2 separate regions of the Homo sapiens genome follow, and region 1 is linked to region 2. The links come from fine-mapping of genetic effects on gene expression. A gene starts in region 2. The other region holds a variant in brackets. All regions are shown on one strand. Distances are between the middles of the regions. Region 1 has its middle 38 kb from the start of TRAT1. Region 2 holds the start of TRAT1 (T cell receptor associated transmembrane adaptor 1).

Region 1 (5,389 bases), 38 kb after region 2:
AATCAAAAGAGGCTAACTAAAACAAATTGAAAACAATTCTTAAAAATAATGACGATTTATGGCAGCTTGTACACACTAACAGCCCTTCTAATTTAGGAAAAATCCAACAATAAATCCCCTTAAATGACAGGCTGTTGCTTTCAATAAACACTAAGACTTACATCTACCACAATATTTTCATATTAAAGTGTTTTTACAGGAAAGTATTTTATTAATGCCACTTGCTTTAAAATGACTTAGCTTTTCTTTTTCAGTTTTGTGTATAAAAAAAGAGGTTTTCCCTGCAGTGACCTCATATTCACTCTCCATAAGAGACAGAACCCAAAACTAACTTACAAAAACAAAAATAAATAAATCCCGATATTGAAGCTAAAACATAATTTTGTGCCCCCTTTTGTCTAATTTTTTCTGTAGGGGATGAAAGTTATCTCATTTGGAATCAGGGAAACATTTGTTATTTAGACCAAAATGGAAGAGAATGGAAAAAGAATCTCAATCAATAGCGTTCTTGGCCACCTCTGATGTAATGGACAAGTCTTTAAAGATGTCAGTAACCATCATAACACTTGAGAATTAAGTAGGTTTATTTCTTCCATCTGCATTGATTAAGAACATACTTGGTAAATTAACTGGAAAAATTGGGTCAAGTGAGGAATAAATTTTTAAAGTACCATAAACATTTAAATTTAAAACGTATAAACATTTAGTCATTAACTTTTGATATAGGGCCAAGGCCTTACTTTGAGTAGGTCTATGATTGAAGTTTCATGTCATTTTTCTTGTATAAATATCATTGTCCATAAAACACTGTCTATGGTCCCAGTTTTGGTTTTGTTTTTAAGTGAAATGAGAACTTGAAAACATTTCTAATGAAATCTAACTGCAGCATCCCTCAAGATTTTTGGTTTTTCTTCCGAGACTTTAAGAGTTATTTCACCCTTACCTAAATTGTCAGTAATTTTTTTTTAGCAATTCGGTTTATTGATTCTTTGGAATCAGTGAACTTAACTATCATAGGAAAAGTTCCCTCCACACCCATATTTCATTAGGACACATAACAATTATCTTATGTAATTACAAGTACAGCCAAAATAATCAAGTGCAGGAACAAACACCATGCACTCCTGGGAAACACAGTTTTGGTGGTGGGAGAGACTCAGGAGGTTATAAGAATAGTCTACTGGCCATGGTGTTTATTGTGCTGGGTCAGGATTCAGTATGTTGATAGAAGGAAGGGAAAATGGCTCACATAGGTAGAGGTCAGTTAACAATGCCTCTATTTTACAAACCCAAGTTAACTTTACAGGATGAATTATTAGAACAATGGAAGAGTCTCCCACATCCTTTGCTGTTCTATTTTGTCTTTTTTTTTTTAACCACACAAGCAGTAGTGGTACCCAAAAATTCTACCATTTGAAAAATTAATTTTTAAATTAAATACTCTACTTTTTAGTCTTTCTACAAAGTATTGAGAAAGAAAAAAAACTTAAGAAAACTGGGGCAAATCAGTTTTTCTCCAATTTCCATTCTCCCATTTTTCCTAAGTACAGAATCTTTACTTTTAACTGGTGATCAAGACAGCATTAACTTCTCAAGTTAACTAAACTTCAGACAGATTTCTTCCTGTCCGTTTTCCTATTTACTTAAAAAACAAACTCATCATTGCAAATTCTTTTTTGGCTCCCTTTCAAGTGTGTATGTCTCCTCAAAAAGCTTTTACCTATTTGATTACCCCCAGAAATGTCTCTCTCAAAAACCTGAAAACCATCTCTTTGAAATGTAATTTCTGAAGGAAGATAATGCCTTTATCCTCCAGTCTGTGGGAGGGCAAAAGCCTACCTTCCGTCATGGAGATAGGTCAGAATTAAGCACAGGTGGCCTACCGTTACCCCCACCCCAGCTCTTAAAAACTCTCCAGCCTTTTGTTTCACCCTGAACTCAGAGGCTGAGTTGAGTTCAACCTCTCTCCTGTATTGCAATAGTCTTGAATAAAGTCTCTCTTGCTTGTTTAACTTTGGCTCATTTTTCACTTTAATACCAGATGCACGGCTGCTGGAACAATGTTCCCTCTGTAGCTTGTGTTGCCTTTCTTTGGCTCCTCATTACCTGTAGCTGGAATAAAGATGTGGTGGCTGAAGTCTGAATAGCAACATTTGATCACAGGATAGACTGCATGGGCTGAAGATGACAGAGAAATAGGATAAAAAGAGCTAAATTCCTAACACATGGAACAGCATCCCAGCCTTAGACCACCTATCTCCAGCCTTCTTTAATGTGAGAGATAAATTTCTGTTTTACTTAAGCCATTGTTGTTTTGAGATTTCTGTTATTCACAGGTGGACCTAATCTAACTAATATACCCCAAAATATCTTGATTTCATTTTTCACCTAACTTCTTTTAAAGAGGTAGTAAGGAGTACTAAAATGATGTCATTTGGGGTGAAGTGGGGTTGGCAGAATGAAATTCACTGGTATTACGTTGGTGCAAAAGTAACTGTGGTCTTTGCCATTAAAAGTAATGGACAGGCCAGGCGCGGTGGCTCACACCTATAATCCCAGCACTTTGGGGGACCGAGGCAGGCGGATCACGAGGTCAGGAGTTCGAGACCAGCCTGACCAACATGGTGAAACCCCGTCTCTACTAAAAATACAAAAATTAGCCAGACATGGTGGCACACGCCTGTAATCGCAGCTACTCAGGAGGCTGAGGCAGGAGAATCACTTGAACCTGGGAGGCAGAGGTTGTAGTGAGTTAAGACTGCGCCACTGCACTCCAACCTGGGTAACAGAGCAAGACTCCATCTCAAAAAAAAAAAAAAGAAAGTAATAGAAAGACCACAATTACTTTTGCACCAACCTAATACTTTTCCATGTACCGAATCTGCTCCAAACCACTCAGAACATTTGTAGAGATGAAAGAAAAGCCAGTTTCCTGTAAGATTAATATGAAAAATTCTCACATATGCATTAAATTGTTTCCTCTCCATTAAAATTTAGGATATTTTATCTGTAACTATGAGAAATTAAATTTGTATACAATTATTG[C/G]TTACTATATTCACAAGTTCAGAAGAAATAGTTGAAAGAATAAAATTGTAACTTAAGGAGATCAATTAGAAAATGGATAAGACATATGCAGATATTTTAAATAAATATTAACCTATTTTTAAAAGACCAACCATCCCTTGGCTATTTACACTTCATCTTGCTGTCTAAATCCTACTATCAAATTGTTAAGGGCAATATTACTTACTGTCGCTAACTTGGTATCAATTACCAAGTTAGTATCAGTTTGATCTAATTTATTCAACCTCAGCAGGCCTTAGAAGACAAGGTTCCAGCAATAGACAAATAAAGCCGTCTGCAGAGTTTAATGCTAAGTACTGGTTTGGGAAAAAGAACAAAGAAGTGGAACAGTCAGATTCTAATTGGGAGGCAGGAGCTGCAGCCTCTTGTTGCAGGGGATTTAGGAGAGCAGGGAAACTTGTTTCTCTGGACAGAAGTGCTGCAGTGTCCCCTGCTCTCTAAGTGTCTAAACCTTTGATTACCTTAAGAAAGAAAGACCTTTTCTTGTGCTTGTTGACATCTTCTTGTCAATTTTGCCACTCTTGTGACATTAGCATATTCCTCATTAGCAAAATCAGAATGTGGTAGATTAATGCCACACACTCCTTCTCTCACTAAGTAAAATCCTATTCATCCTTTATTCCATTTCTGCAAATAAAAATGAAGTCTTAGGCCTGCTTTTCACTTCTTATGCTAAGTAATGAAGTTCCTAAGCCTGGCCTTAAAAAATGCAAGTCTTCACAATCAACAATAGGTGGCTAAAAAAGATGAAGAGATGTCCCCTCTCTCCTGAAGTTACAAGATAGAGCTTTCTGCATCATAAAATAAATTCAAATAGTCTGATGTGATAAGGTATTAAATTAAGAACATTCACAAGAATATCAATCTTGCTTCTGTGCAACAAGGAGACTTGTGTGAATATTCATAACTGTTGCCAACTTCTTCTATTCTCTGTTAATATAAATTTGTCCTTGGAAGTATGGTTAGAAGAGATTCTTCTAAGACTTTGAAGACTAGTTTGTTGCAATGCCCTGTGATAATAACCAGAAGAAACGTGCAATTCTGATTGGTTATCTTACTTGCCCTTGTAATATTATAATTGACACCTCAGTGCTTGTTTGTTTGTTTGTTTGTTTTTGAGATGGAGTATCGCTCTGTCACCCAGGCTGGGGTGCAGTGGCACAATCTCAGCTCACTGCAACCTCCACCTCCCAGGTTCAAGCGATTCTCCTGCCTCAGCCTCCCAAGTAGCTGGGGCTACAGACATCCTCCACCATGCCCTGCTAATTTTTTTTGTATTTCTAGTAGAGATGGGGTTTCACCATGTTGGTCAGGCTGGTCTCGAACTCCTGACCTCAAATGATCCACCCACCTCAGCCTCCCAAACTTCTGGGATTACAAGTGTGAGTCACCATACCCGGCCACCTCAGTGTTTTTAAACAATATAAATGCTTGAAAGATTACTAGGTCATACAAAAAAATAATCACTGGCACTTTCTTTTTTTCTGACAGGCATAATGGAAAAGTTAAAGCCTATGACTGCAACTTTTTTTTAACACAGAGATGAAGGGTCTAGCTAATTTATCGGGAACAATATCTATTTAAATCTACCTAACAAGCTATTATAAGAAGGGGCAGCTGAGGTAGTAAAATGGAGAAGTAGGCAAAATGCAAGGAGCTGTTATTTTCAAAATGACCCTGTAAGGCATTCTTCCTACAAAAATTTGTGTAAGCCCACTATGTGCTAGTCACTATTCCAGTGTAATGGCCAACCCAGTGCCCAGTCGGTGTTTGGGGCTATCAACAACAGTCCCCGGTTTTGCATATGCACTTTCCCCACCCTCATTCAGCCACGTGTCTCACAGGAAATCGAGCCGTTCCCCAGGTGAGAAAAGGAAATCAAGGTGGGGCATAATTAGTTCAAGGGTATTGTAACAGAGCCACAGGAAGAAATGGTTTCTCATCACCTATCTGAGCACTTTTGCATCTGATATGACACCCAGAACTGCTGCAGTCATCTTGTTACTACTCTGAGGATGAAGCCAGAACCAAGAGACTGAGCAGAGAGATGGGAGAATACAACCAAAATCACTTGGGGCAGTTTACTCAGCCCTCACCCTTGCCTCTTACCCAATTAAGGGACAAAGGCCTGTGGATTTTGTTACTATATCCCATTTCATTTTTCTTTTTCCCTCATCCAGGCTCATGGCATCTTTCACCTGACTTACTACAATAGACTTGTGATTTATCTCTCTTCCCCAAGTCTTCTGCTTACTCTCAGAGTGTGTCTAAGACATAGCTCAGATTATTTCCCTCCTCTTTTAAA
Region 2 (5,328 bases):
TATGATTTAAACATGGCTCATGAAGCCATCATTCAAATCTCTGAATGCACTTTCTAATATATTTTATAACAAATAAATATCCATATGCTTTTTTATATTCTGATAATGTTTCCATGTGCTCAGCCATCTATATTTAATGAAAAGCTATTTTTTTTTTCCTGGCAAATTTCAAACATCTATGGAGCTAACTAATGTGCAGGCACGGACTTCCTGTGTGACCTTGGACAATCTTGTTACATCTCCGTAGATTATTTAAATCTATGGAATGGAACATTGTAATGAAGATCACTTTTCAAAAATATTGTAATAATTAGAAACTGTGAAGTGGTTCAGATTTATTAGCCTAAGTTTTTACCATTTAGAGATGTCAATCATGCATAGGAGGTACATTAACCCTTTTAAGCCATAAGGTAATCACTCAACAGGTACTTCAGGCTCTTTCTGAAGCAGGACATATCCTTCCTAATGTCTCTTCTGCTCTTGCCTTCCCCAGCTTCCTGCAGCTGTATGGGTAAAGTCATACCCTTGAGGCAGGGAAGCCCTTAGACAGCTGCTCTCCCAACAGGTGGGTTTGCTTTGGGTCTCTCTTCCTGTTGGGCTGCTCTGAGAGATACTTCTGAGCAAACCACAGAGTTCCTGCATTTTTGCCTGAGTCATTCTTGCTGAGTTGACCTTCTCTCCATTCACAGCCAATAATAATTAAACACCGTTTTTTCTGGAATTGCACTTTATGGATCAGCTGGGATGAAAGCATCTTCCTTCCTTCTTTCCCCATCCTCTGCGATAATTTTGTTCTAACAAAGGAATGCTAGCACCAAAATTTCCAGTCCTGAAACCCTTTCTCTTTCCAATGTCCTCTGTAAGCTCGAGTTGTGGGCATCTACTTTGCCCATATTCCAAGGTCTTGCTTAGGTAACCTCTGTAGTCCTTTCTTGAGCCTAGGACTTCTACTTTTCTTACCAGTTACCCTCTTTCAGGACCAAAGCTCAACTCCTCAAGGCCATAACTAGGCCCTCTCCTCTCAAACTGATTTATCAGGTGCCCGAATCTTCCTGAATGTCTGGGATTCAACTTTTCAGCAGTCTTCCTCCCTACGTTCCATCTAATTCTAAGATGAAACCTTCTGATTCTTTGTTGTCCTCTGATCCCTACATGAACCTGAGGCTGCTGTTCCCTGAAGTCTTGTTCTGTCAGCATCCAGGCCTGCTTCATAAAACCTGTCACTCTGCTAATGGTTAGCGGCTGAACAAAGAGTCCTCTGGCCAAATAAGTTTAGAAAAACTCTGATAAAAATATTATTTGGGTTTCCTTTTCGCAGGACTTACCTAAGCCTTTAATATGCATCTACGGAGGTAAAAATAAAGCTATATATTTTTTCCAAAGATATTTGTTGAAGAAACATTTGTCTTCTGCGTTTCTTAAAGGCCGAGTGTTCTATGGAACATACTTTAAAAATCCCTTTTAAAGAAGCTTAGACCAGAGAATCTCCAAGGTCTCTTTCAGTTTTACAGCCTCTGAGTCAACGATTCACCAAAAAATATTTTGGGGGGGAGTGATTGAAGTGGAAAAATGTGTTAGTGTTTAGCCAGCTTTGTCCAAAGGATAAGATGCACTGTATTTTGCTTACTAGGGAGTTATTTTCTATAATGGAAGACAAAGAAAGCACAAGACACCCATGGTTTTGTTTGTTCAATCACTGAGAGTAAGTCTCAATTATTGAGACTTACGATGTGCCGGTGTGCTTAATTCTAGTTATGAAATTTTAATAATGAATAATATAGATTCTATTCCTTATATGAGTTTCCAAAAGCATTGTCCAGAACATCTATATTAAAATATCTTATCATATACAATATATGTAATTTAAAATGCACTCAGAAAATCTGCTTGTTAAAATGCAGATTCTAGTGCTTCACCCTAAATAGTCTAATTTAGACGGGCCCAGGATTTTAAACTAGCATCTTATAGCATACTTATGTACACCAACATGTAAGAACTGCTGCTATTAAGATTCTGGGATGGTGGTTGAGAACAGGAGCTTGTTGTCAGGTGGCTCTAGATTGGACAGAGAAACTCATACTGATAAGGTGAGGATTGTCAGGAAATAAGGCAGGCATCTAGCCTCGCATTAAGATGAGGTATAGAAGGCAACTGATACATACTAAGTGCTCAAAAAATATTAACTCCCTGTCCTCCATCATGGCTCAAGAAAATACAACAGCTGAGCACACCCACGGGTTGCTTACTATTTACTCATCAGTTTAGTGTATCTTATTTTGTTTCCATGTGAATTTACTTGTGAAGAGATGACTGGATTCTCTCCAGAGATAGGAAGATCCCTCCTGGTTTAATTCCTACCTTTATTTATTTATTTTTCAATTAGACTCAGGTATTGATAAAAATTCAAATGTCAGATTACAAAGGTGTGTGGGATTTTTCTTCCCACGTTACACAATTTAAGTCGACTGTTTTCAGATCAAAACTCAAGACAACTCCTTCACCACATTTCCTGTTTGTAACTGAAACAAAGTACACACAAAAGATTTTAAGAAACAGAAGAGAAAAGAATCCGAGGCACAGATAAAGATAAGTTTTACTGTCATGCTGCTTTTAACATAACAGAGCAACATCACCTAGGAAAAAAGTTTGTAGGAGGATTTTTAATCCATATATTTGTCTTATGGCTAGATAAAGATTTCTCTGAAAAAAAGAAGCATGTCAGGTAAGTGGCATTTTAAACTTTTTGTTCCATTTGTGTGTCTAAAAATTCACTTAATTTCTAAGTCCTAACGAGAAGACCCTTAGTATTTAGAAAGTAGTTATTTTAAAAATGTTGGATAACTTTTAGTGTAATTAAAATATATTTTGAAACATGTTAATGAGTATAAGTTGACATTTTTCTTTTGAAAGAAAAATGTGGACAGCATTTTAGAACGTAAATCTAATTACAGCTGTTCAGTAAGTGTTCACTGATAATTATGCCATGTGAAGTACTTGTTATTTTTAAAGAAGCTTTTGTTGACTATGTGTATTCCTCTTTAGTTTAGTTTAGCTATTAAACAGGATAAGTGTAATTCTAATTCCTCAGAGATTAGGCACTATAGTATTTTCTAGAAAGCAATGCAATTGTCAACATTCAGAGAGACAACAATTTTGAAAAGGCCAGTGAAAATTCAATTGCTGTGAGATTAATCATGAGGGTTAGATCCATATTCACTCGCTGTTGTGAAAGGGTTGGATCCATATTGACTCACTGTTATGAATCCATGTTGATGGTTCATTCCTCCTGTATTATTTTATGTACTTTTAATTTATTAAATAAACATCTTTTTGTTGCAAAAGGAAACATGCATATTATGTAATGTGGGAGAACTGTGAAATATATATATTAAAAATTCATACGTATTTTCCATCACCTTAAAAACACAAAATATGTTTTATTTCCTTTCAAATTTTATTTATATACATTCTATATAGTTTGCTTTTCATAACTGAAATAATAATGTACATAATATATCCAGCTTTTTTCACTAACATAACCATGTCCCTTTTAATATAACTTCTGCATAATCATTTTAAATGAATGCACAAAAATGATATCTATTCAGTTATAGTTTAGTCATTTGTTTATTGCTGAACATTTATGTTGTATACAGTTTTTTTTGTTTGTTTTTTTTTGAGACAGAGTCTCTCTTTGTTGCCAGGCAGGAGTGCAGTGGCGCAATCTTGGCTCACTGCAACCTCTGCCTCCCAGGTTCAAGCGATTCTCCTGCCTCAACCTCCTGAGTATCTGGGACTACAGGCGCGTGCCACCACGCCTGGCTAATTTTTGTATTTCTAATAGAGACAGGGTTTCATTATGTTGGCCAGGATGGTCTCGATCTCTTGACCTCATGATCCGCCCGCCTTGGCCTCCCAAAGTGCTGAGATTACAGGCGTGAGCCACTGCGCCCAGCCCTGTTGTATACAGTTTTTAAAAATATTTTTACATGACAGAAAGATGAACAACTCTATAGCTTTTTCTGTAGTAAGGGTTATTTTTTCAGAAAACTTTCTAGAACTGAAATTATTAAGAGATTATGGCATTTTAAGTCTCATTATTGCCAAATTGCTTTTCCAAGAGTGATGCCAATTCCCTCTCATTCTAGCAGTGCTTCTCCTTCACAGGCTGATCTCCTTTAAAAAATCGTCACTAATCTCATAAGCACAACATGCTAACTCATTGTTCAATATGCATTACTTTGATTATAATGAGGTTGAACATTTTTGCATGGATTTTTAAACTGTTTATAGCTATCATTTGTGATAGTCTGATGACCTCTTTTGCTTAATTAGTATGCTTTGTACTTTTAATACCAATTTGTATAGGCCAGCTATGGAGTAAAGATTGCATATATTATAATTTCTGTGAATTGGCTTCCATTGTTCTGTTTGATGGATCTTAAAACCAATTGATTACATAAATCACACAGGGACCATAAGCTGGCATACAATTTTCATACCTCTCCTTATCTTTCCCAGTTCATACTTTAGCAAAGAACAAAAACAAGTGTCCCAATTTTTCTAGTGCCCTGCAAGAAATGAACATAGCATTACTAAGTATAATTCCATGAGCTGATGATGATGGGGAACTCAGAAAGCATGGGAAGACCAAAGACGGTGAATATGACATTCCTCTATTTTCAGGACTAATTAATTCTAAATTTAGAACAGATATGGTAACATTTCCTCCATCGCATTTTGTAGTTCAGACTTCCCCTTTGGGTTTAATACAGGAGCTCCTACATCAACAGTTGAGAACTTTTACAATTTCACAGAAGAGATGCAAAGACAAAGTATTTAAAAACCTCACAGGTATTAAAAGTCAAAACAAAACAAAATTTCACATGAAGGAAGAGAATCAGATGATAGTATTTTTTATATTTAGATAGGTAAAATAAAAAATAAAATAAATTTGAACACACACAAAAGAATAATTATTTCTAGTTAAGTAAAACTACGTATGAAAACAAAAACCCAAGTATTTTCTTTTTTCCTACCTATATGCCTGTAGTCACTGCATCATCCATAATGTTCTGGTATCATAATTCCTGCTGTGTTTCTGCATTTACATAAAATCTGTATTAATGGAATCAAATGGTGAAAACAAGTCTTTGGTCTATCATTAATTTAAATAATGATTCACAATTTAGTTTACTCATCTTCATTTTTTTTAAAAAAAAGGAGTCTCATTGTCTTTACTCAGTTTTATCTTCTCTTGAGCCTCATCACCTTTTGAGGACAATGAAATCCTTTCTTTTAGAGACTAGGTGGGACTAACGTGTAAAT

Evidence for each region.
Region 1: its variant is fine-mapped to the expression of TRAT1 in whole blood (INTERVAL, PIP 0.90).

What each region holds. Positions count from the first base shown.
Region 1 is chr3:108,858,061-108,863,449 of GRCh38, forward strand. No RefSeq gene overlaps it. Among named protein-coding and RNA genes, the nearest start is that of TRAT1, 38 kb to the left of the region's middle. The variant C/G (reference allele first, on the strand shown) is at 3,046.
Region 2 is chr3:108,820,213-108,825,540 of GRCh38, forward strand. TRAT1 (T cell receptor associated transmembrane adaptor 1) reads left to right here and starts at 2,574. Exons shown (of 6, transcript NM_016388.4): 1 at 2,574-2,722. The coding sequence starts at 2,716.